Regions from separate parts of the Homo sapiens genome. Here all the other regions are linked to region 1. The links come from fine-mapping of genetic effects on gene expression. A gene starts in region 1. Each other region holds a variant in brackets. All regions are shown on one strand. Distances are between the middles of the regions.

Region 1 (4,069 bases):
TCTAATAGAAAACCTAGCATATTTTAAACGATTTTGCCACTTAACACTTATTATGGACCCACAGGGTATGAGGGCCTTTGGAGATCATCTAATCGGACTTCCCACCCAACTACAGGAATCATTTCATTGCAACAACTCTTTAAACCCGTCTAGAAAATGCAATGCTCTCTCCCCTTTTCCACGGTTGAACATCTTCCTCATGGCCCTATAATAATCAATGATAATTAATGAGCCTCTTCCTCTCCTTGGACAAAGAAATATGATAGGAGAAATGTTTAGTTTGCTGATGCCCATCATGGGGGAATAGTCCACTGGTAACTCTGGCTTTTGGGTTCAGGATTAGACAGAGTGGTTAAACTAAAATATTTATCGTAAGTATGAATTTGTTCCACAAACATAACATTTCAAAGGTAGCTTTGTTTCCTCTTTCCTTGCACTGCCAGCTATTAACTTTCGGTTCATTAGTCACGATTTTCAGAATCCACTTGGCTGCCACCTTCCTGCAGCCAGACCATCTTGGATCAGAGGGTGGGCCAGCCATTCCCACGTCACACCTGCCACGGGATCGATTTTTTCCCCCATTGACCACAGTCACTTTTTGTCAATTAATTAATGTTATTCACCTGGTACCCATCTTGTGAATGGTAGGTCACTACGGAGCGGATTACTACTTCATATCCCATCAATGACAGAGCCATCATTACGAAAACCTTTTCTGACAACCACTGAAGAGAAACCATCTCCACACCGTGCATTTTGCATCACTTCCGTTGCTTCTTTACCTGATTTATCACAAAGACTATGTACCACACATCTTCTTTATTAATGCATTGACAATCAGTGAAGACAATGAAAACCCACCACTTTTGTCCGTGAACTGAGAAAGAAAATGGCAATGTCATATGGCATTAATGATGCATGAGATCTATGGGTGTAGTGTCACGTCTAGGCGTGTAGTAATCCAGTCTTCGGCCTTACTCCAGGGAGAAAGATTCAGCTTTGTTACTTTCCAGTCACTCTCTCCCGTAACACAGCACCTTGGCACAGAAAGCAGAGCGACAAAACCCAGAATGAGGACAGTTAAAATTCAACTCAAGCTACAGCCATCCCAACGGTCCTCCCCAGCTCCCGCGGAATATTTACCAAGACCGTTTAAAGCACTTAATTAATTCACTTCAGCTTCGCTGGAGAGGTCTCAGGGTTCCCGAGACTCCATTACATAATATCTTTCACAAAGTCTATTCCCAGCTCGAATGGAAGATGGATTCTCATCCAGTGTGCGGAGGTTCCATGCCTTTGCTTCCCTTTCCCGGAGTTCGATCCGGCGATACCCTCCCGAGGCTGCAGCCATCGCCCCGGCCCCGAGCTTCTGGGGTACCCGCCACTCTTCGAACTCCAATCTGGCCCCGAAGGTGCAGCCGCCTCGCCCTCCTGGCTCCCAGGCCGGCCGCTGCGGCCACGGTGCCAGCGAGCGCCCGGGACACCGCGACTCTCGCTGCTCGCTGGGTGCGCCCCAAGCCCATCCGCAGCGCACCCGCGGCGCCGGGGCCAGAGCCGCAGCTCGGTGGCACGGCCGGCTCGGTGCGCCGGGCTCGGGGAGGAGGAGATCGGGAAGAGGTGGAGGCGTGTGAGGGAGGGAGGAAGGGCCCGGCCGCCCGAGAGGGGGAGGGGGAGGCGGAGGGGGCCGGCCGGGCCGGGGAGGGGGGGCAGCCAATGAGCGGCGCGCGGCGCGTGGGGGTGGGGGGAAGGTCTGGGGGAGGAGGTAGGATGGGGGAGGGCGCAGCCCGAGCGGCTGAGGCTCCAGCCATAAACAAGCGCCCGGAGGAGCGGCGCAGGAGTGAGGCGAGCGGGGCGCGCGGAGCGGACGCCGCGGATCTTGTGCTGCGCCACCGCGCCCACTCGGCAGCTCGGGAGGCGGGGACCGGCCCGGAGGCTGCGCCGCTGCGGGGCCGGCCGACTCGGAGGAGGAGAGGGAGGAGGCGCCGCCGGCCCGGGCTGGAGCCGAGCGCAGCAGCCACCGCCGCCGCCGCGCCAGAAGTTTGGGTTGAACCGGAGCTGCCGGGAGGAAACTTTTTTCTTTTTTCCCCCTCCCTCCCGGGAGGAGGAGGAGGAGGAGGAGGGGAAGCTGCCGCCGGCGCCAAGGCTCGTGGGCTCGGGGTCGGCGCGGCCCGCAGAAGGGGCGGGGGCCTCGCCCCGCGAGGGGAGGCGCGCCCCGGGGGCCCCGAGAGGGGCGGTGAGGACCGCGGGCTGCTGGTGCGGCGGCGGCGGCGCGTGTGCCCCGCGCAGGGGAGGGCGCCCGCCCCGCTCCCGGCCCGGCTGCGAGGAGGAGGCGGCGGCGGCGCAGGAGGATGTACTTGGTGGCGGGGGACAGGGGGTTGGCCGGCTGCGGGCACCTCCTGGTCTCGCTGCTGGGGCTGCTGCTGCTGCTGGCGCGCTCCGGCACCCGGGCGCTGGTCTGCCTGCCCTGTGACGAGTCCAAGTGCGAGGAGCCCAGGAACTGCCCGGGGAGCATCGTGCAGGGCGTCTGCGGCTGCTGCTACACGTGCGCCAGCCAGAGGAACGAGAGCTGCGGCGGCACCTTCGGGATTTACGGAACCTGCGACCGGGGGCTGCGTTGTGTCATCCGCCCCCCGCTCAATGGCGACTCCCTCACCGAGTACGAAGCGGGCGTTTGCGAAGGTACGGCCGCCCGCTGCGGGCCCCCTCCCACCTGGCCTGCGCCGCCCCCTCGGCGCTGGTTGTGCCGAACAAAGTTTGGGCGAGACTTTCTGGAGGAAAGAGGGCTCTGCGGGAAGAGGGGCGGCCGCCGCCCCCAGGAGAGTGCCCCCGCGGCCCTGCGTTCCCTCTCCTTGTTCCCCCCGACGCTTAGGCAGTCGCGGGCGAGGTTGGGTATGGTGGGTGGGGGCGAGCGAGTGGAGGATCGCCCCTGTCCCCGCGCAGACGCGCACACGTGTGGCCGTTCCTGCTGGGACTGGGTGGCCCGGCCTTGCTCCCCGAGGTGGGGGCGCCGCGGGCGGGGGGCACTGCAGATTCTGCCGCGCGCGAGCCCCTCGGGGAGCCCGGCCCTACCGCCCTCCCCGCACTGGCGCAGTGTGGCACCGTGAGCCGCACGCCGGCCGCGAAAGTCCTTTTTCTGTTGGCGGAGGAGACGTGTCTCCAGCTCGCACTCCCCGAGTGACTCTTATTATTTTTTCCTTGAGCTCTTCCTTCACCCCTTCCTCCTCCTCCGCAGATAAATCAGTTTCAGCCGCGGAATATGTCAGCCCAGGGGAAGTTACACACGGTGGTTACTCATTTATTTGCCCATTGTAAACGGTCAAAGGCTTTCTCTCCTGAAAGGAAAGGGGGGTGGGGGTTGCACCTGGGAGTAAAAAGTTGTTGCTATTAGTGGCTGCTTTTTAATATCAGATACCCGCGTGTTTCCTGTCGTGTTGCCGGTTCCTCCTTTTTGTTTGTTTGACAGCGGGGATTGTTCTGCTGGCTTCTCCAGCACGCATTGTGCTCCGCGGTGTCGAGATTGACGGTGGGAGAAACAGATTAGATTAGTGGAGTCTTTCTCGTTGGGGAGCCAATGTTAGTGCGTGTTGGCTTTAATCCCTGCCCGCTTGCGTCGGCCTTCAGGGTGCCTGGTCTGGTTTGGGGTCTAGAGCGAGGCAGTGAGTTATTTTGATGTGGCTAACGGGGGCACGGTTCGGTAAGCATCAGTTAAAAGTGGGATCCCTGCTCTGGCTGACGTTGGGCTGATGATGCTGTTCCGGGGGCATCCTGGCGAGTGAGCAGAGCGCACGCAGCAGCCTCGTTTCTGGGGAGGCGGCGAGGAGGGACAGGCGCCCTCTGCCCGGCGTGCCTTCCTCACTACTCACAGCCAGCACCGTCCAGGGAACGGTTTATTCCGAAGCATCTTTGTGTGTGTTTGTTTAGTATGCTGGGATACTGAAAAAGGAGGTGACAGCCTTAAGGATAACAATGGACCTATTAAAAGGCTTCAGTGCTGTGATTCTCTCTAAATACGCACAGACACACACATAGGTACTTATTTATACCTGAATAGTTTGGGGTTTGGACAGTT
Region 2 (4,069 bases), 97 kb after region 1:
CTATCATCACAGCTCCAAACTCTGTAACTCCAGGAAAGGAAATAAGATAAAAGGAAGGATGGTAGTCCCATTGTGTCTGAAAAATATGTCAAATATACAGCCCATGACCAGAGCGAAGGTCATCAATGTCGTTTGCTTTCACTATAACATCTAAATATTTGCACCAAGCTGCTTCAATTTGAAATTGTGCTCTCAAGAAAATTCATTTTGTTGGTGCTGTCTTGCATTATGATAATAGAATCTTAGCAGATTGCTAGCACACTGTTTCTTGTGAATAGATAGAGATGTTTAGAAGAAGTTTTCTGGGGTTCCAGAATTCACAGCCTGAAATTGACTCATACTGGATGAGGCCAGCCGAATGGAATCTTTGGCAGGTTATCCCTTCCCTTCAGAAGCACTTGAGTTAAATCCAATTAATCTAACCACATAGCTACAGTGAGTGAAAACAAGGTACAGATTTTAAAATGCTCCAATCGGTTAAAACAGTTAAATAATTACATACTCATCGAGGACCTCATGGAAGGCAGAACACTGGGCTTGGTGTGGGGTATAGTGGTGAATAAAATGTGGCACATGCTTTAAAGAGTCTTAACATCTTACAGATATGACCAATGCCAGTTTCAAAAAGGCTCCCAAGTTTTGGAAGGTAATAAGAAGGAAACACACAACATGCACACACACACACAGTCATCTGCCCTCAAGGAAAGAATCAATTAATAGACAGTCTTTCTACCAAACAATGAAAACCAAATTTAAGAAAAACCATACAGTAATATGCCAGCTTTAAATCCAAACTGAGAAATCAAGGACCTCAAAAAGCACATATACATATGGAACAACAGATGACAATTTTTTCTTATCCCTCCCTTCCCTCCTGAAAACTCAATAGGACAGGAGGGATTTTCTTATTCCTCTGTTCTGGAACATCTGTCTGCTTCTGAGAAATGGAACGAGCAGCAGGATCAAGAATCCTTTAGTGCTCTGTGTGCTCAAATGCTTATCCTTCCGTGGTAGAGCTTTCCAAAGTTTGTCAACTCTTATCTCCAGAGCTACAGCCCATAACTCTGCGGTTTGAAGCCTTTAGGAGGGTGTTGGGAGGTGGGAGGATCACGCAAGAGTCAGAGGCTGTCAACACAGTGCGCATCAACCCAACCTGACAAATATGTCAAAGCCAGAAACTTCCTGAGGGTGGCTTGGAACTGTCAGGGTCATGTTCAGAGCTCAGAAAGCACTTCTTTTTTTCTTCTTGGAGACAGTTTTAAGTTTTTTTAGGCCATCAAATAATATTTCCTGTAGATCCATGTGCTTTTTACCATTGTGCTAGGCAATTAAGTTGCTTATATCATGCCTACTCAAGCTAACCAGTTTTAACTATCCCTGCATATGCATTTTCAAAGGGACTTTATCTAATTAAGAGTGTTGTAATTCATTATCATGTCCATCTGTTCTAAGATAGTGTCTCAGAGAAGATGGCACTTAACAGTTTGGGTTTTTTTTTTTTAAGATTGATCTGTTAGTAGACAAATTTCCATAATTCAGTTCATTTTTGTTGTTGTCGTTCCCTTTAATTTGAATAATTTCTCCAGCTGCTTTTTGGGAGTAAATAAAATTAAGTTATATAATAAGTAAAATATGCATTAGCACAGCACAGATTTAAAACATTCCTGACTCCTGACATACTATTATGGTAGCATTCTCTCTGTTTTTAAACACATGCAGAAAAAAATTTGGAAGTGTATTTGAAGCTCATCTTTCTCAACTAAGAAAAGAACATCTATTCTGTTGCCCTCTGTCACAGTAATTTTTGGCCCAAAAGAGCGAGTCAACTCATGACTAAAAAAGCCAGAGTCTATATTAAACTCTGATGTTTTTAAAACAAAATAATTGTAGGAATTCCATGTTATTATTGGACCTATCCCCAGATTGAAGAAAATATGCTTTCCTAGAAGTAAAGCCATTGCCCATTGGAAATGAACTGTCTCCCTAGTAGAGTGTTTGATTTGTCAATAATTCTCTTCAGATGCGTGCGTGCTGTGTTTCCTGTACTAGGGCCTTAGG[C/CT]TTTTTTTATCTCACCTTAAATTTGACCTAGTGTCTAGCCTTATTTTGTATTTGTCTTAGTCCCGAAAACAAGCAGGGAAGGCTCTCAGTCAGTGGCTTCCAGTTTAATCCGAGTGGTCATGGATATCACCAGACACTGTATATGTGGCCCTCCGAGTCGGACTGAGAGAAGGTAACTTAACTGAATTCCGTAAGCCTTTCAGTAAAGTTGAAAGCGGAATCCACAGCGTGATAATATTGAAACTCAGAGGTCTCTCCATACCCTCTTTTGCTATGTCATCATCATGGCACATGCAAACAGAACAGCTCTGCAAAAATGCTTTGTGAAATTACTTGCATAGCTAATAAGCAAGTCTAAAATGTAAAAGCCCTACCTGTAATGAAAATACCAAAAGCAACCCAAATCACGGAATATATTTTACTCTTCATGTACACCTTTACATTGGATATGGCTTATTGGGTTCCCCATCATTGTAGTTGCAACAGTTTGCAGATAATTCAGGGTTATATTTGGTAGACATTTAATTGCTAATTAGAACCCAGGAGGTAGAGACAGCTGGTTTCTCTTGGCCTTGGTCAGTCTGTTGTGAATGTATTATACAGCAAGTGGTTTGTAAATTATTCTTTCCTGACTTTGCTTTTGATTGAAAAGAAAGGAAGTTATATGTCATGGCTCTTATGATAATATGATCAGGGACTTTGATTTCCATAGCTAGATCATGAAGAGTTTTAATGATAATTCCTAAGACATTAGATTGTGGATTCTTTGAGGGCAAGGACCCACCCTATATATTTCATTCTCATCAGTACCTAGCACGGGTAAGTAATGAATGCTTTTAACTAAATTAGATAGACAATTAGTCTGCAGCAAAAGTCCTAGCATCAAAACCCCATAGTGTTCTTGGATTGTTCAGGGAGCAGATATTTTGAGCATTTGTCATGTGCCAGGCATTGGGCTACCCAGCAGGAATAAAATATAGTCGCTGATGTCTAAGAGCATATATTATAAAGGGAAGGCAAATATGTATAAGTCATTGTAGTTTAAAGTGTTGTGTGCTTTGGTAGTAGAAGTGTGCAAAAAACACAAAGTTAGCAAAGCAAACACATGCTAATTCCTATTTGGAGAACGGTCAGATTTGACTTTTGAACTGAGTCTTTAAGAATGAGTCAGAGTTCACAAGATGGAGAAAGAGAGAAGGGCATTCTAGGCTGTTGTTGATTTTTCGACTTGTAATGTGTCTTGCAGCTTAAAACATTAACACTAATCCCACCTACCTTTATGATTCAAGAAAAAGGGAATTCATGACAATGTTGGGTTTTCTTGAGATAACCACTCCATTGCAAGACTGCATTACTTGTTTAAGGTGTTTTGTTACTTTCCTGTTTCTTACAAGTGAAGACGCTTCTTAGTATGGTAGGCAAGGCCCCATATTACTCAGCCCTGACCTCCCTCTCTGGCCATGACTCCTGCCAGTACCCCCATAATAACCCCAGTCCTCCTCTCAGTACATAGTGTACTTCTGGTGGGCTAACCTATTAGTTTAAACTTAACACACTGTATTCTTTCTTGCCTTTGTAAATTTAGTGTGTTCTTTCCTCTATCTGGAATGCCTTCCCTCTGTGCCCACTCCCCCACATTTGATGGTCATTTCACAAACTGCCACTCACACCCCTCACCACCACCACACACAAACACACACACACACATACAGCATCAGCTGTTTATCTTTGTGCTGCTAGTTAGAGAAGGCATCATGGAAGAAGTGATCGTCAGGAATGAACCGAGGTCTCTGAGGCATGATGGGGGGCTTCAGGGTAGAAGATGCAGAGTAGCTCTGACTTTTCTCTAGCTGCTCTTAACAGCTTGAGTATCAGCACAGAGGAAGTCAAAGGGTTGAATCACAGTTTGCAGTTAGTAGTTCTTGGGGCTGAATTTTACCCCAAGACATGTTTTCTTTAATGTGCCCCTTTTTTTCTATTTTTAAATTAGTCACTGATATTTAAAAACTGG
Region 3 (4,069 bases), 120 kb after region 1:
TTTCCTCACTTTTAAACTCAGGATAATAATACCTATGTCAGACCTTCATTATAGGGATTAAGTGAGGTGATACATATAGAGAGTATTTTGTTAAAGGCCAAACACTATTAAAATTATACGTGTTTATACCATGTACAGAGAAAAAGAATTTAAGAGAGAGCACTGGGGGAACAGAACATCACCACTTCAAAAAAGACCATAATAAAATTTTTGAAGCAGAACAAAACCTAATGTGGAGGCAGGATCATTCATTTGAGGTAGACAATGATTTAACCAAACAAATAGAATCACTTTAAAGCACATACCAGATATGTGAGTGTCATGGTCATAAAGTTTAGCTTTGTCTGGGATGGAAGGAAGTCAGTGTAGATTTTCCTAGGGGGAATTTCTGTTCCTTGGTGTAAACTGGATAACAGTGTGTTTTATTTTATTTTGTTTTGCTTCACTTTATTGTTTTCTGTTACATGAACTTACATTGAGTTGAGTAAATTTCCATCAACTTATAACCTCCTATTAGAAATTTTCTAGAGGCTGTTTGAAAAACATCAAAGGACACAACTAAAAAATGACTACAAATATGCCTTGTTTGTTTTAACTCTTTTCAGATACAAAGCCAGCCTGCGTATTTAACAATGTGGAATATTATGATGGAGACATGTTTCGAATGGACAACTGTCGGTTCTGTCGATGCCAAGGGGGCGTTGCCATCTGCTTCACCGCCCAGTGTGGTGAGATAAACTGCGAGAGGTACTACGTGCCCGAAGGAGAGTGCTGCCCAGTGTGTGAAGGTAAGAAAAGGTGCTAATTACAGATTAACAGGAGCATACATGGTATAGAGTTCTAAAATCAAAATCGTCCTAATTCAGTCTCATCCAAAAGTAAAGGAATATTGAAGTTCCTTTTTTAGCCTTTTTTAAGACACCATGGTCTGTCTTTTAGCATGTTAAAGCCAGGTAGAGTGTGTGGAAACACTTCCCTAAGGGAAGCTATGCCTGGGTGTAGACAATGGGTCACCTCTTTCCACAGGCAACGTGAGATGTCCCAGAGTTGTTTTCCGTTCCTCCCCTGCAGTTCTAGCAATTCCTCAGCAAGTCCTAGGGCAAAGCTTTATCTTCACCCTGGCATTAGAGCTCACCACCTCCTCACCTCAGATTGCTCAGTTAGGATAATGTGGGCCTCACCCTGACAGTCTCAGCCTGCCGGCCCAGAGAGGAACTAACTCTGCCACTGTCGTAATACCCAGGACCCTCCAGGGAGATCAGGGACCTGCTACTGCTTCTCTGAAAATATGTGGTGGTTCACATGGGGTCGTGGTATCAGGTCACCACCTGGTGACACCAACTCAAGGCCCAGCCAGGTGTCAGGTGTGACTCTCAGGAATCTGCTTTGTCTGGATTCCCCTTTTCTCTCCAAGAAGTAATATGTTCATGTTCCTTCAACAGGCTGCATCTTCCCATCACTGATGTTCATAAACAATAAGCATTTCAAAACAGTTGCTCTGAATATCACTCCCTGCAACCCACACATTTTACAGATTAGGATGTTGAAGTTCAGAAGAGAAAAGTCACTTGCCTGTAAAGTCACTTTACACTGCAGCCAGTAACAATAACCCCGTGCCTGACTGTGTCTATAGTGTTCTTCTGACAACACAACACTGTTTCCCCAGAAAGGAAGGTCTTGTGAGCCTTCCTGTCCTAACCAGGCCCCAGATCTTCAATCTGAAGTCGCATGTGTTAATCTTATGCCTGATCTCTGCACACAAAGTGGGAGGGCACAGTGTCATGCCACTTTCCATACTTCCTCATTTTCATAAAATTTTCTCCTTTTGATATTTGAGCAATATTTACAACATAATATTGAAGATCTGAAAATGTTTAAAGTATAAAAATTGCATTCCTAACATAGTTCATAACAGTGAGTTCTTTTCCCTACTAGAGGTTATTTTACCCAACATAGGAGAAAAGTAGTTTATTTTTTAGGTGATGTTGACAATTAAAAAGAATTACTTCAAATTTTTAACCTTTCTAATTGTTTTGTTCCCTACCTGCCCCCAGTCTGCAATAGTTCTGAAACTGTGCAGCAGTTGATGCTGTAAAAATGTAGATACGAACCTCTGTGTAGTCATCATACTGAGTTGTCTGGGCATGGATCCAGTTATGTCTCACTTCCTGGAATTCAGATCCAGGCTCAACGTAGAAAAATATGTATTCTAATACTTTTTACACAGGAATTTAAAAAATCTTCTCTTGCTCAGGTCCATTGGCCGCCTCCCTCTCTGGCAGACTGCCTTCCTAACGCTGTGATGGCATTATTTTAAATG[C/T]TGACCTTCTAACTGACTTTATTATAATGTCCCACTATGTCCTTAGAATAATGATGACCAAACTCTATGAACTGTCTGGATTCCTCTCTCAGCACAGCAGTAGTTGTTTGTTGAAGCCAGTTTTTTATGTATTTCTGAGAAAGAAAATTGAGTAATTTATCTGGTTGCTCTCAATAGAGGGATAAGAGAGGGTTTCATATGCAGTATTTATATACTTGTCAGTAACCTCAGAAACTTTTTTTTTTTTACAGTAGCTTTGGCTACTTCTGTCTCCCACCTGGGGCTGCAGCTTAGCTTCCCAACTTATGGGAGAAAAAATGGCCTAAGTTCACAGCGCTCCTCCAAGGCACAGTGACCCATGGTATGTCTAGACTAGCCTTGTCATGAACAAGTCCACAGCAAGACCACTGTTGCCCACATGGTCGTGCAGGTACATGAGATAGAGTTTTAGAAGTAACAATATCACTCTGACTTAGGGCATTGTTGCTTCCGCTTTACAGTTAGGGAAGTTGAGGTTTGATAAACATTTATGTCTACAACTGCGAAGACATTGTCAGAGCCTAAAATGGAGTCATGTTTTCTAATTACCAACCCACAGCTCTTGCCACAAAGCTTTCCAACTTTACAGAGTGATAACACCTGCACATTGGTTTTTAGACTACAGATCCTCTTCTCTGGGACTGCTGTGTCAGGATGAGTAGACATAAATTCAGTGTGACAGCTTCTTTTGCATGCACCCCCAGAGACTCCTCATGCAACCCTGCGCTTCTGTTGATCACAGTGGGAATAGAACTGCTGATGACTAGAACCCAGGGAAAAAATGTCTCTGGGTACTGACAGAGATAAGATTTAGAAGATGCTCAGTCTAACTCTGAACTCATGTTCTCATTTAGATCCAGTGTATCCTTTTAATAATCCCGCTGGCTGCTATGCCAATGGCCTGATCCTTGCCCACGGAGACCGGTGGCGGGAAGACGACTGCACATTCTGCCAGTGCGTCAACGGTGAACGCCACTGCGTTGCGACCGTCTGCGGACAGACCTGCACAAACCCTGTGAAAGTGCCTGGGGAGTGTTGCCCTGTGTGCGAAGGTAAATCTTGCAGATGCTAATGAGTCCCTGGTGAATGTCTTCTGTTGGAGAAGCTTCTACCAGCGTACGTTCTTGTTTGTTTATTTCCTTGGGCATAATGTCTGCTTCACGCTGTTACCAGTTGCCAACAAATTTATCAAACAGCTCAAACTGATGATTTGAGGAAAGGTTGCACATGTGAAATGAGAATAGTGTGGTCATTATTTTGCCATTGCAAATATGCGCGTCTGAATACTTTACAGTATAAGAATATGTACATTTTAATTAAGTTCACTTTGAACCTAATTAACACCCAAAGGTCAGCCTAACAAAATGAAATTGAAAATGAGACCGATGAGTCAATCTTAGCACCTTTGACTTGTGATGCTTCCATATGCCCAAGCGTCCTGGCAACTAGAAGAAAAGACTGGAACCATGAAAGCCAATTTCCACTGCCTAGTGCCGTCACCGAGTATCTGTTCTACTTCTCATATACCAATGGCTGTGGCTTTGCAATTCCTCTAGTGCTGTTATTTATGTCGTGGTTACCTGCATTTGCTATCTCTCTTCTTGTTCAGTGGAGGGAAGCCTGAGGCATCCTGGACTAGTTTTTCTGTCCCGACTCCTATTCCAGCTCATTTCCTCCATCCTGGGAAGATTCTCTGCATACTTAACTCAT
Region 4 (4,069 bases), 240 kb after region 1:
AGTAGGCAACACTTCCATTATATTAGGTGCTAGGCACTGTTCTAAGCAATTTACATGTATTAACTCATGTAATCTTCAAAAACAACATTAGAAGGGGGAACCATTATTAACCTCATTTTACAGATGAAGAAACTGAAACACAGGGCGGGGAAGAAATGTTTCCAGGGTCACATGAATAATAAATACAACTGTGCATTACACTTATTTTTCTTCTGTAACTTCAAACAAACAGACCATTTCAAAAAGTGAAAAATCTCTCTCAAACAAAAGGTTTGTTATCCTTTCTGGAGAAAGAATTCGCTCTCAATGTGAGAACAGGATTTAATATCTAATTTGTAATAAAGAAGCTAAGCACTAAGGCAGATACAACAAAAAGGAGAAAGAGAGGGAGTTCACAATAAAACACACCCAGGCTCTATCCAATGCAGTTACCTGACCTTATTACCCAACAGCATTACAGGGAGGCAAGAGGGTCAAATGGTAAGGGCATTTGACTGAGACTAGGGAAACAAACTCTCATCTCCATCCTTCTTCAAATAACGAGTCATTGGCCAGGCCCCTTAACCTCCCTAGGTATCCTCTGCCCTTCTATAAATGAGAGACCTGGACAAGAAGCAGATACTCCTTCCAGCTCCATTACTCTAAGCATTAATTCAAATGAGGTGTATTGAAGAGAGTCCCAAACCACACCAGATAAGAACACCAAACTCAAATTTCACAACCAAAATTCAGGTTTCAATACCAAAGTAATAATCAGCACAATAAAACATGATGTTTTATGAAAAACTAAAGTTCAGAGATACAAGTGACTTGAAATCTAATTGGGATACGTAAAATCAAACACTAAACATACAAGCTACTTACTAGCTAGAGGTATACACAAAGATGTCATGTAGAAAAAAACACCCTAAAATGTTTATTAGGTATCTAATTGTGAATAAGCAATAGGCTTTCTTTCCAAGTGTGTAAGACACTAGGATACAAAAACAATCCTGGCTGGGGCATAAACATAAGAATGAATTTTTTTTTTAAGTTCCGGGGTACATGGGCAGGATGTGCAGGTTTGTTACACAGGCAAACATGTGCCATGGTGATTTGCTGCACCTATCAACCCATCACCTAGGTATTAAGCCCAAGAATGAAAATTTTAAAATACAGACATAACATAGTTAACAAATAGGGATTGGGCGCTAAAAAGAAGCAATAGGACTGCAACGGCTAAAAGCATAACATCCCAAATGATGTTTGGCTTTAAAATGCACGTTAGGGATGGGCCTGGTGGCTCATGCCTGTAATCCCAGCATTTTGGGAAGCCAAAGTGGGAGGATTGCTTGAAGCCAGGAGTTCAAGACCAGCCTGGGCAACAAAAGGGAGCCCCACATCTCTACAAAAAAAAAAAAAAAAAAAAAATTGGCCAGGCCTGTGGCATGTGCCGCAGTCCCAGCTACTTTTGGAGGGTAAGGCAGGAGGACTGCTTAAGCCCAGGAGCTCAAGGCTGTAGTGAGCTATGATGGCACCACTGTACTCCAGCCTGGGAGACAGAGCAAGACCCTGTCTCTAAAAATATATAAATAAAATAAAAAATAAAATTAGCCTTAATAAAAATGTGAACCCAAAAATCTCTAGAGAACTAACTCATCTACCCAGCAAAGCTCCCATATGCACAGTCCATTCCTATTCTCCTCTCTGTTGGAATATCTCCTCTAATGCCAGTGAAGTAGAATTAGAGGCAATGTCTGTGGACTACTAAATTTGCTGGGTTTCTGTGGACTACTAAACTTGCTGGGTTTCTGGCTCATACCTTCCTGGATAAGAAATTTTCAAACACTGAATGACTGTATAGTCCATTTTCATGCAGCTGATAAAGACATACCCAAGACTGGGACGAAAAAGAGGTTTAATTGGACTTACAGTTCCACATGGCTGAGGAGGCCTCAGAATCATGGTGGGAGACAAAAGGCACTTCTTACATGGTGGCAGCAAGAGAAAA[G/T]GAGGAAGATGCAAAAGCAGAAACCCCTGATAAACTCATGGACAGCGGCCCTCTTCTCACAACCCCACTAGGCAGTGCCCCAGTAGGGACTCTGTGTGGGGGCTCCAACCCCACATTTCCCTTCCACACTGCCCTAGCAGAGGTTCTCCATGAGGGCCCTGCCCCTGCAACAAACTTTTGCCTGGGCATCCAGGCATTTCCATACATCTTCTGAATCTAGAAGGAGGTTCCCAAACCTCAATTCTTGACTTCTGTGCACCTGTGGGCTCAACACCACATGGAAGCTGCCAAGGCTTGGGGCTTGCACCCTCTGAAGCCACAGCCTGAGCTGTACTCTCGCCCCTTTCAGCCACAGCTGGAGCAGCTGGTACACAGGGCACCAAGTCCCTAGGCCGCATACAGCAGGCAGACCCTAGGCCCAGCTCACGAAACCACTTGTTCCTTTTTGGGCCTCCAGGCCTGTGATGGGAGGAGCTGCCATGAAGGTCTCTGACATGGCCTGGAGACATTTTCCCCATGGTCGTGGGGATTAACATTAGGGTCCTTGCTACTTACGCAAATTTCTGCAGCTAGCTTGAATTTCTCCCCAGAAAATGGGTTTTTTTTTTTTCTATCGCATAGTCAGGCTGCAAATTTTCCAAACTTTTATGCTCTGCTTCCCTTATAAAACTGAATACGTTTAATAGCACCCAAGTTACCTCCTGAATGCTTTACTGCTTAGAAATTTTTTCTGCCAGATACCCTAACTCATCTCCCTCAAGTTCAAAGTTCCACAAATCTCTAGGGCAGGGGCAAAATGCCACCAGTTCTCTTTGCCAAAACATAACAAGGGTCATCTTTGCTCCAGTTCCCAACAACTTCCTCATCTCCATCTGAGACCACCTCAGCCTGGATTTTATTGTCCATATTGCTGTCAGCATTTTGGGAAAGCCATTCAACAAGTCTCTAGGAAGTTCCAAACTTTCCCACATTTTCCTGTCTTCTGAGCCCTTCAAACTATTCCAATCTCTACCTGTTCCCCAGTTCCAAAGTCATTTCCACATTTTCAGGTATCTTTTCAGCAACGCCCCACTCTACTGGTACTAACTTACTATATTAGGTTATTTTCATGCAGCTGATAAAGACATACCCGAGACTGGGAAGAAAACGAGGTTTAATTGGACTTACAGTTCCACATGGCTGGGGAGGCCTCAGAATCATGGCAGGAGGCAAAAGGCACTTCTTACATGGCGGCAGCAAGGGAAAATGAGGAAGGAGCAAAAGCGGAAACCCCTGATAAGCCCATCAGATCTTGTAAGACTTATTCACTATCATGAGAATAGCATAGGAAAGACCAGCCCCCATGATTCAATTACCTCCCCCTGGATCCCTCCCACAACACGTGGGAATTCTGGGAGATACAATTCAAGTTGAGATTTGGGTGGGGACACAGCCAAACCGTATCACTGACTATAGACCTAATCCTGGCAGGAATTTAAGCAGGATACACTAGCAGGTGAAGACAGTCCAGAATTTGAGGAGTTTGCTTTGTCTGCTGATTTGCTCCTTCTTAAACAAGGCTATAAGAAAAAGGCAAATGGGATGGAATATTTCACTTAGAAGTGCCTGTCAGTGAGTTTGATCTTCCAAGAAAATGAAAGCCAACTAACAGTCTCCACCAAGGTCAAAACAATGGTAGTTGGAAGGACACAGAGGCAACTCTAGTGAAAGATTTCTAGAATTCTGCAGTCAAGACATATGAACTGCCTTCATCTTTATCACCAAGTATTACAACCAGTCGTAAACAACGGTCAGGACAGCTCTTTTGCAAGGAGGTCAAAGTCCTGCCAACATCGAATCCTGCAGAATACTCTTATAAGTAAAACCTCAGTACGTAAATACAATCCATATTTAACCAAAACAAAAGCTGAGGCTCAGAGAAGTTAAATGAAGTGCCAAGGGTCGGGGAGGGCTTTGGGGTGATTCAAGCACATTACATTTACGGTGTACTTTATTTCTATTATTACACTGTCATATATCATGAAATAATTTTACAACTCACCATAACGTAGAATCAATGGGAGCCCTGAGCTTGTTTTC
Region 5 (4,069 bases), 110 kb before region 1:
TAGAACTAGTGGCTTCTACAAACTAAATGTTAGTATTTTGTTTCCATATCATAGGCCTAATTGTAATATACTAACTAAAATATAAGAATGTATTTTTATTCTTCCCTGCTTTTGAACAGAAAATAACCAAACTATCAGTTCTATCTAATTAACAATGCCATGCTAATTTCACAACAGTATTTCCAAAATGACACACAAGGTGAATATGCTTCCGGAAAACATTAAAGATAATTCACTTGCAATACACTTGCAAAGATGAGACTCCAGGAATGAGTAATAACAAATGCAGATCCAAGTGCATTTGGAGGATCAGGAATGGATTGAACAGCACCTCCATTCTCCCCAGGTAGGACAGAGTTGATGGGTAAAATTAAGTAAGTTAGAATGTTCTGATGCATTCCTGAAGTATAAGCAGCCTTCTCCAGCCACCTCTAGCTCATTCTCCTCTAGTACATTCTTTCTCTTCCCAGTCAGGGACCCTGAAGCTGGTGTTCTTACAGGAAGCGCAGTCTTATCAATAATTCCCACACATGGCTGGGCACCAAAACCACCAGGATTAGTTGCTAAAAACACAGGATCTTGGGACCGCCCTGGTCGTTTTGAATCAGAAACCTGAAGAAAGATATAGTTAATCTATATTACCTAGCTAATTCCTAAGCAACCAGCCTGGTTCCAAACCCAAATCAAGCACTTGGGAGCTTCTGCCTGCATATAATGTTTAGGTTCCCTTCCTCAGATTGTGTGGCTATTGGCAGGAGAGTAAGGAAATCAAAAGGATTTCAGTAAGCCAATAGCAAAATTGGCAAAAAACAACACAATTCATACACACACACACAAACACACACATGCACACACTGTGCAAATGGCTGTTTAACACATGAAAAAATGATCCTCCTCATAACAAGACTAATACCTGTGAAAACCACACTGAGATACCATTTCTTACCTGTCAGACTGGCAAAAATTAAAAAGTATAACAATATATTCCGTTGCTGAGGCAGCAGGGGATACAAGAACTCTCACACATTTTTAGTCAGGATGCAAACTGATGTGATCTTAATGGAGGGGAATTCGGCAATGCCTAACAAAATTACATAGAGCGTTCCTTTGCATCTGAACCCAACAATCTCTCCTCTAGGAATTTACACGGAAGAAATACTTCCAACAATATCAAAATATGTATGCACATCTGTTTCCAATAATTGCAAAATCCTCACTCACCCTCTACCATTTTACCTGTGCCCTGTTCATGGCTAGAAAAACACATTTCAGTCAACAAGAGCACATCCATGTAGATAAGATCCTAGAGATACCTAAATTTGTGGTATGAGGAAAACTAAAGTTATACTTAAGAAATACGGCCCCCCAAAAAAACCGTACCTGACAGAGGCTGCACCAGTGCTTTCCAGAAACATTTTTCTCGTGTACAGAATTTTCTTTGGATGAGATACACCCTAGAAAATTAAATATGAAGAGAAGGAAGATTCCAGATCTTCTTCAGAGTCTCTCTGCACTCACTCTGAGAAGCCATCTTGGACTTCTAGATGTTGGCCTTCCCGCGTGATTCTGCCTCTGGCTCTGCCTTCCCTGCGGTTCTCTTTGGTTTTTTTGTTTGATTGTTTTTTTATTATACTTTAAGTTCTAGGGTGCATGTGCACAACGTGCAGGTTTGTTATATTTGTATACATGCGCCATGTTGGTGTGCTGCACCCATTAACTCGTCATTTACATTAGGTATATCTCCTGCGGTGCTCTTTGATCTAGTGTCTCATTTACACATAATTTCATCAAGGGCATTAAAATTCCCTCGCCAGGCCCTGAGGAAGCTTCTCTTCACATACCCACCCAAGAGCCAAGCAACTGGCTTTGAATGTACTTGTTAATTAAAAAAAAAAAAAAAATACGTTACAAAATTAAGGCAGAGGTTACTGTGTAACGACAACTATGGGAAGTAGAAAATGGTGGCACATAACAGCCTGCATCCCCACTACTCAGAATTAAGCTTTTTTTCCTATTTACTTTTATTTTATAATTTTTTGTAATTGATTTTAAAAAGTTTATGTACGGTGTACAATGTGATGCTTTGATATACGTATGCATTGTGGAGTGAGTAAATCAAGCTAATTAGC[G/A]TGTCCATCTCCTCACATACTTATTTTTAGTGGTGAAAACATTTAAAATCTACTCTCTCAGCAATTCATATATACATACATTGTTATTAACTAGCGTCAACATGCTGTTTAGTAGAGCTCCAGAACTTATTGATCCTGTGTAACTGCAACTTTTTATCCTTTAACCAAAATCTCCCCATTCCCACCCATCCTAGCCCTTTGTAAACCCCCATTATATTCTCTGCTTCTATTAGTTTGACTTTTTGGAATTTCATACAAGATCATGCCATAGTTGCCTTTGTTGTCACAAATGACAGGATTTCCTTTTTTAAGACTGAATAGTATTCCATTGTGTGCATATACCACCTTATCTTTATTCATTCATTCATTGATGGACACAGGTTAATTCCATATCTCAGCTAATATGAATAATGCTGCAATGAATATGGAAATGTAGATTTCCCTTTAAGACACTGATTTTGTTTCCTTTGAATATATGCCCAGAAGTGGAATTGATGGATCATATGGTAGTTCTATATTTAACTTTTTGAGGAAAATCCATACTCTTTTCCATAATGGCTGTACTAGGCTTTTATTTTTTATAGCATTTTTTTCAGGCATACTGTCTCAGCAGCTCTCACTCAGTAATTCATCATTAAATAGTTTTTTGAATTCAAATGTATAGAACTTTATTGCAATTTAAAGGTATATATATGTGTATATATATGTGTATATATGTGTATATATGTATATATGTGTATATGTGTATATATATGTATATATGTATATATATATGTGTGTGTGTGTATATATATATATATATATAGCTAAATTAACAAAAACGGTAAGTGGTCAAAAATTTAGTGCATCCTAATTAGTTTCATCCATTCCTCCAAAATTTAGGGCCTAAAATAATGCAGTAACTTCTGGAGTAGCAGCAATATGTATACTGGATTATGCTTTCTTACAAAAGTGATTTTTTAATAGGCACCAAGTAGAAAGAATCTGCATCATTTAAGAGTCCCCTGTGTGGAAGAATCTGTTCTATTTTATGTTTGTTGATTTGAAAGGGTATTTCAGAAAGAATGGGAAAATGAGCCCAGGAGATCAATATTCTGAACAATTAACCTATAAACAAATAAAAAACACAGTATATGGGCTACTTAATGTCACATCTCTATAGACAGACAACAATACATTTGTAAGCAAGCTTGACATGATGGATATAACTAGATTAGTGGCATACTTTGCCAAAACAAAAGCACATGTGCTTTCTTTCATTGTTCCATGTTGTGAGAGATGCTCTCTGCCTTTCCCTCTCTTTAATCCTCTCACCCTGATCTTCATCAATAATTTGGACATTTATATAATAGCTTTGCAAAAGAAAAAGCAGAGGCAAACTTACCCATTGTGAGGCTCAAGTTTAAGCCATTTTTTTAGGACTCCAAGGGAAATACCACACAAAAGACATAAGAAGCTATGGCTTGCCTAGTTTCCTGAAGATGATGTTGGATCTGTATATGCACTCACAGCTTACCATTTTGGTGACAAATCAATGGTTCCCAACTATGACTGTACATTAGAATCTACTCAGAGGTTTGTAAAAATACTCACTTCTCCCCCCACCTAGCCACCCAGCCAATTGACATGGAATCTCAAAAAGTTGGGCTCAACACCTTTAGTTCTTAAAAACTCCAGATTTTTAAAAAAATCTATCCCTGAGGCACAGGGATAGTTGAGATCAACTTCATTAAATAAAGAAATCTCCTTTTTGTTCCAGTCCACAAACTGTATCAATAAGCCCAAAACTTTATAAGCCACCAATATTACCCTTTCTTGCCTGCTGGAAAAGTCTAAGTGGAATTGTTATTTAAGATACTTTGACTGGATCCCAGGAAGCATAGTTTCTGAAAGATATTCATTTATGCCAGAAATAAAAATTATCTTTAAAACCAGAATAG
Region 6 (4,069 bases), 120 kb after region 1:
TATGTTGGCCCTGACAGAATTTTCTCTAAGACAGTAACATGTGAAATCACCATTTAAAGGGGAGCCGTACCCAGCATCAGCTTGCTCCTCATGTAAAATTTTGGCCTAGAAAATTCAGACCTGCAGGCTGTTAATTTTCAAAAAAAAACACTAGTACAGAAAACATTAAGAACCCACTGTCTATATAGCAATTATGCTCATAATGTTTCTAAGGACGTAATGTCTTCTACTGATAGAATAATGGAGATATTCTGGCACTTTGAGAGCAATACTCCACTCAGTATGTGTTTATTGAGCACCCCTCGTGTTCCTGGGGCCTTGTTAAGCTAATTTTGTTAAAGAGTGATACACATTGTTGTAATCCTTTCTAAGGGTTGTTCTCTTCCCCTTTTCCTGAAATAGGATATGCTTGGTGTCCTCCAGCACACACACACACTTCCCCTCTTCTCCCTGTGGAATAAGCCAATTGAAACTAGCAAACATATTTTTAGTCTTATAGTATTTAATACCGAGCCATTAATTATGAGAGTATAGTTAGCAAGACCAGATATTTATTGAGGCTAGTCCACATTCACAACTTTAAGAACATGTCATCAGTATAATTAATAAAGGGAAAACTTAAGGATTTAAAAACACACAGAACTCAAGAACTCCTGAGTTTTGAAAACACTAGCCTGAATGAACAGATGGAGAGAACATCCTCCATGAATAGTCCTTCTCTTTTCACTTTGGTTTTAATTTGTTTTGGTGGAGGGATGGGACAAGCTGCATGTCGAAGCTGCAGAGAGTTATCTAGAAGATTTAGCTATGAAAAGTGATGAAGGTGGCTACACTAAACAACAGATATTCAGTGTAGAGGAAGCAGCCTTCTATGGAAAGAAGATGCCACCTGGGACTTTCATAACAAGAGAGAAGCAGTCAATGCCTGGCTTCAAAGAATAGGCTGATTCTTATTAGGGGCTAATGCAGCTGATAACTTTAAGCTAAACCCCACGGCTGTTAAGAATTATGCTAAATCTACTCTGCCTGTGCTTTATAAATGGAACAACAAAGCCTGGATGACAGCATGGTTTATTGATTATTTTAAGCCCACCATTGAGACCTACTACTCAGAAAAAGAGATTTCTTCCAAAATATTACTGCTCATTGACAATGCACCTGGTCTCCCAAGAGCTCTGATGGAGGTGTACAAGATTAGTGTTGTTTTCGTGCCTAACACAACATCCATTCTGCAGCCCATGGACCAAGGAGTCATTTCAACTTTCAAGTCTTGTTAATTAAGAAAAACATTTCATAAGATTAGCTGCTGTAGATAGTCATTCCTCTGATGGATCAGAACTAAATCAATTGAAAACCTTCTGCAAAGGATTCACTCACCATTCTAGATGCCATTAAGAACACAGGTGATTCAGGGGAAGGTGTCAGAATATTAACATGGAGTTTGGAAGAAGTTGATTCCAACCCTCATGAATGACTTTGAGGAGCTGAAGACCTCAGTGGAAGAAGTAACTGCAGATGTAGTAGAAGGAGCAAGAGAACTAGAATTAAATGTGGAACCTGCAGAATGTGACTGAATTGCTGCAATCTCATGATAAAACTGGAAAGGATGAGGAGTTTCTTCTTATCGATGAGCAAAGAAAGTAGTTTCTTGAGATAGAATCTACTCCTGGTGAGGATGCTGTGACAACATCTTCACCAGATAAAACGACAACCAGGGATTTAGACTATTACATAAATTTAGTTGATAAAGCAACAGCAGGGTTTTAGAGGATTGACTCCAGTTTTGAAACAAGTTCTACTGTAAGTAAAATGCTATCAAACAGCATCACATGCTACAAAGAAATCTTTCATGAAAGGAAGAGTTAGTCAATGTGGCAAACTTCATTATTGTGTTATTTAAAGAAATTGCCACAGCCACCCCAACCTTCAGCAACCACCATCCTTATCAGTCAGCAGCCATCAGCATCAAGGCAATACCCTCCACCAGCAGAAAGATTACTATTTACTGAAGGCTCAGATGATCGTTAGCAGTTTTTAGCAATAAAGTATTTTAAATTAAGGAATGTATATTGTTTTTTAGACATAATGCTATTGTATACTTAATAGACTATAGCAGGGGTGTCCAATCTTTTGGCTTCCCTGGGCCACATTGGAAGAAGAAGATTGTCTTGGGCCACATGTAAAATACACTAACACTAATGATAGCTGATTAGCTTAAACACACACACACACACACACACACACACACACACCATCTTACAATGTTTTAAGAAAGTTTGCATTCAAAGCCATCCTAGGCCTCATGTGGCCCGCAGGCTGCAGGTTAGACAAGTATGGACTACAGTACAGTGTAAAC[A/G]TAACTTTTAAATGCACTGGGAAGCCAAAAAGTTTGTGTGACTTGCTTGAGCTGGTCTGGAACTGAACCCACAATATCTTTGAGGTGTATCTATCACCATCCACCAATCAGTGTAGTTTGGTAGGCAGTAGCATGTACTAATAGTCTATATTACAAAATTCTCTTTTAGGAGTTCTGAAGTATATTCAAGAAGGAAGGGAAGATCCCAGAACTTAGAAACTTAAAGTTTAATTTTGCAGACGCAAAACACATACAAAAAATCACTAAAAAGGCACTTCTGTGCTTCATATTGAGAAGTACAAATTACACAGTAAATTATTTCTTCATAACACTTTTCCACATCCACTTAAATCATCCTTTTGTGGAGATTGTGGCAATCTCCACACTGTTCTGAGATTCACATCTACCCCTGATAGGTGAAGAAGTAATTGGTCATTGCTCCTCAAAAACCACAGGTAGCCTTTTTATCATATACTTTTCTTAAGAGCCTCTATAAATCTCTTTGAACATCAAACAGATTTCATTGTGTTGTGTGACTTTTTTCACCCTTAAAGATTGATTGTGTTTCCAGGCTGTGTTTTTAGGATTCTCCATCTTTCTCACTTCCACTCCCTTGATCCTTGTGCTTTTGCTAGTGAAACCTAAGTGCCACAGTTCTCTCGTCAGTCCCATCCCCTCCTGCTTAAGCTTCTGCACACCCTACCATAAAAACAAGTCCACTTGAAGCAGCTTTATTCATAACCAGAACCTGCCCTCCACACTTCCTCAGATCATGCACCAGGGTTGTGGCTTCACCCAGATGGTAGCTGTGGTTGATCAACTCAACCAAATAATTAGTATTGATTGGTTTATTTTTTTTAGTTTCCATGGATGTTCATTTTGTTAGAGTACAGTATTTTGCCTCGCTCTACAGCCTGCAAATTTAATGTATAAAAGTACTCCGTTTTCTATACTTTTTGGAACTTATAGTGTAGCTGCACAATTCCTTTCAATCCCAACTCAGATTAGTTTGTTAGCTAAAAGTATATAGAAGAATTCTGAGCCATGGTAAGATGATTCTTTTTTAACATTAATTTTCTGAAAAAATGTTGTATCCATGTAGCACTAAGGAAGGAGTTTAAACATTCACATGTAGTACGTGTGCACACATAAAATCACTGCCTCATTCATGTGACTTTAAGCAAATCACGTCATCTCTTTAAGTTTCATCTTCATTATCGAAAAAACTGGTACTAATAATACTCGTTCTGTCTTCTTAGCGGGGTTGTTATAAAATAAATATAAAGTAATTGTCCTTGAGTACAATGCAAATGCAAATATCCTCCAAATGCGGTGAAAGTATTTTAGACATGCAAGGGGACATATTAAATGATTTGGGGATGGACAGAAGAGCCCTTGAAAGATGGGGATATCATCATCCAGCTTTCACCGGCAGATTGAGCAGGGCTCATCACCTCAGGAGAACTTTCTTCAGCTTGGGAGTACTTTTTTTAAAAATAGCTTTAGGAGACACCATGCAATTTACCAACTTAAGTTGTGCAATTCTGTTGTTTTCAGTGTATGCTCAGAGTTCTGCAATCATCAACACAATCAGTTTCAGAACATTTTCATCAAGCCATCAGAAAACTCCTGAACTGATTGCAGTCACTGCCCATTTTCCCCCTAAGCTCTCAGATCTAGGCAACCACTAATCTACTTTCTATCTCTATGGAC
Region 7 (4,069 bases), 89 kb before region 1:
TGTCATGGAAGTCAAGAAAATGAGATTTTTTTCAAGGAGAAAGAGGCCAACTTAGATGAATAGTAATGTGTAGACTTGTAAGATGAGAACTTAATGTAACCGGCCTTCAGCTCCCAGCAACTTAAAAGTTTCTGTTTGATTTGGCAACATAGAAATAATTAATGACTTACTGTCACCAATTTCAGTCAAATGCTAGAGATGAAGGTCATAATAAAGTGGGCTAAACACTGATTGAAAAGAAAAACTGAGAACAACCCAGTACCCATCAAAAGGAGAATACACTTGTAAATATGATCAATTCACCCTATGAAATGCTATGTAAAAGTAAAAATGAATTAATTACAGCCACATAGTGCAATGTAGAAAAATCTTGATAGTATGAGTAAAAAATTATGTCTAAGAAGGCTACATTGAAGCAAGTCTTCATGTAATTTCAAAAATAATTAATATTAAATATATATTTTACACATGAATAATTATTTGATAAAATAATTTTAAGGTAAAGGAAATAATAAACATAAAATGTCAAAACTTGTTCCCTTTGATGTCAGTTAGACAGAAGAATGTGTTTTTAAAATCTATTGCACAGCATGATGACTATAATTAACAATAATGTAATGTGTATTTCAAAATTCCTAAGAGAGCAGATTTTAAATGCTCACACACACAAAAAAAAGTATTTGAGAGATAGACATGTTAGTTATCCTGATTTAATCATTCCATAATGTATACACATATCAAAACATCACACTATACCTCATGAATGTATACAATTACTATTTGTCAATTAAAATAAAATAAAAAGGAAAAAAATACTTGGTCCCTCTGAGGGATGGGAATGTAGGGGAATCGTATAAACAAACAGCACATAGAGATAGGTGAACATGTGTTGTTTCATTCCACATGTGTTTATAATATCATTTCTATCACATGTATTTATTATATCATGTAAAAGTAAATACATGGGTTCTGTTTCTGGCATGACAGCCTAAGAAGCTCCATGGAGTCCCCCCTCCCTAATGCTAGAAAAATTGGTAAAAAAAAAAAAAAATTTATGGAAAAAGAGCAACCATTTAAAGTCTCTGGAAAGGATCCTAAGGGCATACATCAAATGAAGAAATATTTGTTCAATAAAATCTACTAAAATGTGGTAAGAACAGCAAGAGCCCGCGGTTATTTCAACCAAGACCTATTCTTCCCTTTCTTTCCGCCCTCTCCTCCCCCGAGCTCTGTGAGATGGAAACTTCTCTCCAGGCTGGGACAGCTGAGAACACAGAGTTTTCTCTCCTACCCAGCTCCCAGTCAGAGGGCTCTGTTCGCAGGAAAGGCAGGGTGTCAGCGTTTCTCATCATTTCCCCAGCTACCTGTTGTTCATTTGAAGTTCAAGGTGAGTATAGCCAAGAGGTGCATGCTCCCTTCTTCTGTCCAGTCCCTACTTATAGGAGAGAGGCTCTATATTGTGTTAGATGCCACTGAAAATACTGAGCCACTAATCACCCTTACCCTGGTTCAGAGGTAGAGTTCATACACAGGGAGAGGCAAACCAAGAAGACTTGAGACCTCTGTCTGCCTCCAATGAGTGCTCAGCTCCTAAAGTGAGAGTGTGACTCAAAGAGAAGCACACCATTGTCCCCCGACTCCAGAGATTTTACCTAAGGGGAGAGAGCAGGCAGAAAAACACATATCCCCTAGCCTCTTTCCCATCAACAAAAAAACTGTCTTCATTATCAAGAGAGTGTGGAAAAATTCAGGCCTAAAAGCACCCTAAGAAACAGTGGAAGTTGTGGTGAAAGGCAACTGGGAGGAGACTGGCAGACGCATTGTACATACAGGCTACGCTGTCAGCTAGCTAGTTTGCCTAAGAGAACCAAGGAAAGAGACAGCTGGGAGGAGCCCTCTTGTGACAAACAATAACAACAACA[G/A]CAACAACCTTCAAACATTGAATTCAGAAACTATCCCTTTAAAGGTGATCAAATTTGATTGGGTAAGTCTGTGACACAGTTTATACCCAGGGCATTGTTGAAAACATGAATCAACTACCAAAATTACTGTCATCCCAGAGTGGCTATGACCACACCCAAGCCTGAAGAGCAACATGAAAGGCTTTGGACTGCATGGGAAGAATAGATGCCACTATAGTAATACAGTCAGTCAGTTAAATTTAAAAAAAAGAAACAAAAGAACAATAACAAGCCCCATAAGGGGGTGACCAGTGCTGAGTTGCTATATTATATAAAATGTCCAGATTCAGCAAAAAAAAAAAAATATGAGACATGCAAAGAAACAGGAAAACGTGACCTACACACTGGGAAAAAATCAGGCAAAAGAAACTGCCTGTTGAGAGGAACCAGATGTTAAGTTTAACAGATAAAGTCTTAAAAGAAGCCATTGTGAATAACTTCAAAGAACTAAAAGAAACCACAATTAAACAAGTAAAGAAATGTGTAATCACAAGGTCACATCAAATAAAGAATGTCAATAAAGATGTAACAATTACTAGGAAGGAGGAGGAAGAGGAAGAGGGGAGGGGGGAAGTCAGAATCCTGGAGTTGAAAAACACAACTGAAATGAAAAATTTATGAGAGAGGCTCAATAGTATATTTGAACTGGCGGAAGAAAGAATTAGAAACCTTGAAGATAGATTGATAAAAATTATGCAATTCAAGGAAAAAAGAAGAAATGAAAACAGCTTCAGAAAAGTATGAGATATTAAGTCATCAACACATACATAATGGGAGTACTAGAAGGATTACTACTAAACTATAGTAATCAAGATAAAATGGTGTTGATATAAGAATAAGCAATGGAATTTAGAGTCCAGAAATAAATCCTCACATTTATTGATTTTTTTTCACAAGGCTACCAAGACAATTCACTGGGCAAAAGAACAGTTTTTTCAACAAATGGTGCTGACACAACTGGATAGCAACATGGAAAATAATAAGTTAGACCCCTAACTCATACCATATATAAAAATTAACTCAAATTAGATCAAAGACCTAATTACAGGAGCTAAACTGTAAAACTCTTAGAAGACATAAAAGTAAATCTTTATGACCTCAGGTTTCACAATAGACTCCTAGGTATAACAGCAAAACCTAAATAGCAAATGAAAAATAGATAATTTGCACCTCATTAAGATTTAAAACATTTGTGCTTCGAAGAACACTATCAACAAAGTGAAAAAACAACCCACAGAATAGAAGAAAATCACTGATCACAAATCACCATAAAATACATGATAATAATGAAATTGAAATATTGCAAGAATTACCAAAATGTGATACAGGGACATGAAGTGAGTGCACGCTGTTAGAAAAATTGTGCCAATAGACTTGCTCAATGCAGGGTTGCTACAAACCTTCAATTAAAAAAATAAAAAGCAGTATCTGTGAAGCTCAATAAAGCAAAAATGAGGTATGTCTATATTTGCTTACTGTTCCAACCTTTAAAAGTATTAACTTATTTAATCCTCAAAACAATCCTATGAGGTAGGTATAATTAATTTCCCAATTTTTCAGATAAGAAAAAATGAGGCTTACATTAAATAAACTGCCTAACATCACAAAACTAATATTTGGAGGAGCCACCTCCCAAACAAAGGCAAAAGATGCAAATAAATCATTTAACCTAATCTTAGTATTATTACCTTAAATCATAGACTTATTTATAATAGTCTGTTAATCTGTTTTTTATTTCGAATAATATTCTAAATGAATACTTCATGTGTAATTATTTGTTGTTTTTGTACTTGTAATTCTCAATTAGAAAGTTATTTTACTAGATAAAGCAAAACTTGAATGGTGTACATCTATCTCTCTGACCATTTAGACTATAAAGCAATAGTCCACATATCACCCTCCTCAGGTTGATTAAAATGTGTATTTGTGTATGTTTAAATGTATTCATAAATACTTCTCTTATTCTACAAAGATTTAAAATGACTTCCGGGAAAGAAAATAAAAAATATCAATATATGAGTTAAAAATGTCAAGACAAAAAAATCTAAATTAGATTAAAAGATCAAGCCTCCAGATAGAAGCCTCTGGGCTTCTTGCAGGAGTGACTT

The links. PIP is the estimated chance that this variant, and not a neighbour inherited with it, causes the effect.
Region 2: its variant is fine-mapped to the expression of CRIM1 in whole blood (TOPMed, PIP 0.97).
Region 3: its variant is fine-mapped to the expression of CRIM1 in whole blood (INTERVAL, PIP above 0.99).
Region 4: its variant is fine-mapped to the expression of CRIM1 in whole blood (INTERVAL, PIP 0.98).
Region 5: its variant is fine-mapped to the expression of CRIM1 in whole blood (INTERVAL, PIP 0.94).
Region 6: its variant is fine-mapped to the expression of CRIM1 in monocytes (TOPMed, PIP above 0.99). The same link has a PIP of 0.9 or more in monocytes after Pam3CSK4.
Region 7: its variant is fine-mapped to the expression of CRIM1 in blood mononuclear cells (TOPMed, PIP 0.90).

The regions. Positions count from the first base shown.
Region 1 is chr2:36,353,945-36,358,013 of GRCh38, forward strand. It overlaps CRIM1 (cysteine rich transmembrane BMP regulator 1), which reads left to right and starts at 1,834. Exons shown (of 17, transcript NM_016441.3): 1 at 1,834-2,679. The coding sequence starts at 2,349. It overlaps CRIM1-DT (CRIM1 divergent transcript), which reads right to left and starts at 1,626. Exons shown (of 2, transcript NR_037631.1): 1 at 1,144-1,626; 2 at 805-1,037.
Region 2 is chr2:36,450,628-36,454,696 of GRCh38, forward strand. The region is part of intron 4 of CRIM1 (cysteine rich transmembrane BMP regulator 1); the gene reads left to right. Among named protein-coding and RNA genes, the nearest start is that of CRIM1, 97 kb to the left of the region's middle. The variant C/CT (reference allele first, on the strand shown) is at 2,059.
Region 3 is chr2:36,476,284-36,480,352 of GRCh38, forward strand. CRIM1 (cysteine rich transmembrane BMP regulator 1) reads left to right here. Exons shown (of 17, transcript NM_016441.3): 6 at 606-788; 7 at 3,214-3,411. Among named protein-coding and RNA genes, the nearest start is that of FEZ2, 120 kb to the right of the region's middle. RefSeq lists a silencer at 143-437. The variant C/T (reference allele first, on the strand shown) is at 2,321.
Region 4 is chr2:36,591,257-36,595,325 of GRCh38, forward strand. The region is part of intron 1 of FEZ2 (fasciculation and elongation protein zeta 2); the gene reads right to left. Among named protein-coding and RNA genes, the nearest start is that of FEZ2, 4.9 kb to the right of the region's middle. The variant G/T (reference allele first, on the strand shown) is at 1,991.
Region 5 is chr2:36,246,847-36,250,915 of GRCh38, forward strand. No RefSeq gene overlaps it. Among named protein-coding and RNA genes, the nearest start is that of CRIM1-DT, 110 kb to the right of the region's middle. The variant G/A (reference allele first, on the strand shown) is at 2,130.
Region 6 is chr2:36,469,509-36,473,577 of GRCh38, forward strand. All of the region lies in intron 5 of CRIM1 (cysteine rich transmembrane BMP regulator 1), which reads left to right. Among named protein-coding and RNA genes, the nearest start is that of CRIM1, 120 kb to the left of the region's middle. The variant A/G (reference allele first, on the strand shown) is at 2,357.
Region 7 is chr2:36,264,881-36,268,949 of GRCh38, forward strand. No RefSeq gene overlaps it. Among named protein-coding and RNA genes, the nearest start is that of CRIM1-DT, 89 kb to the right of the region's middle. The variant G/A (reference allele first, on the strand shown) is at 1,923.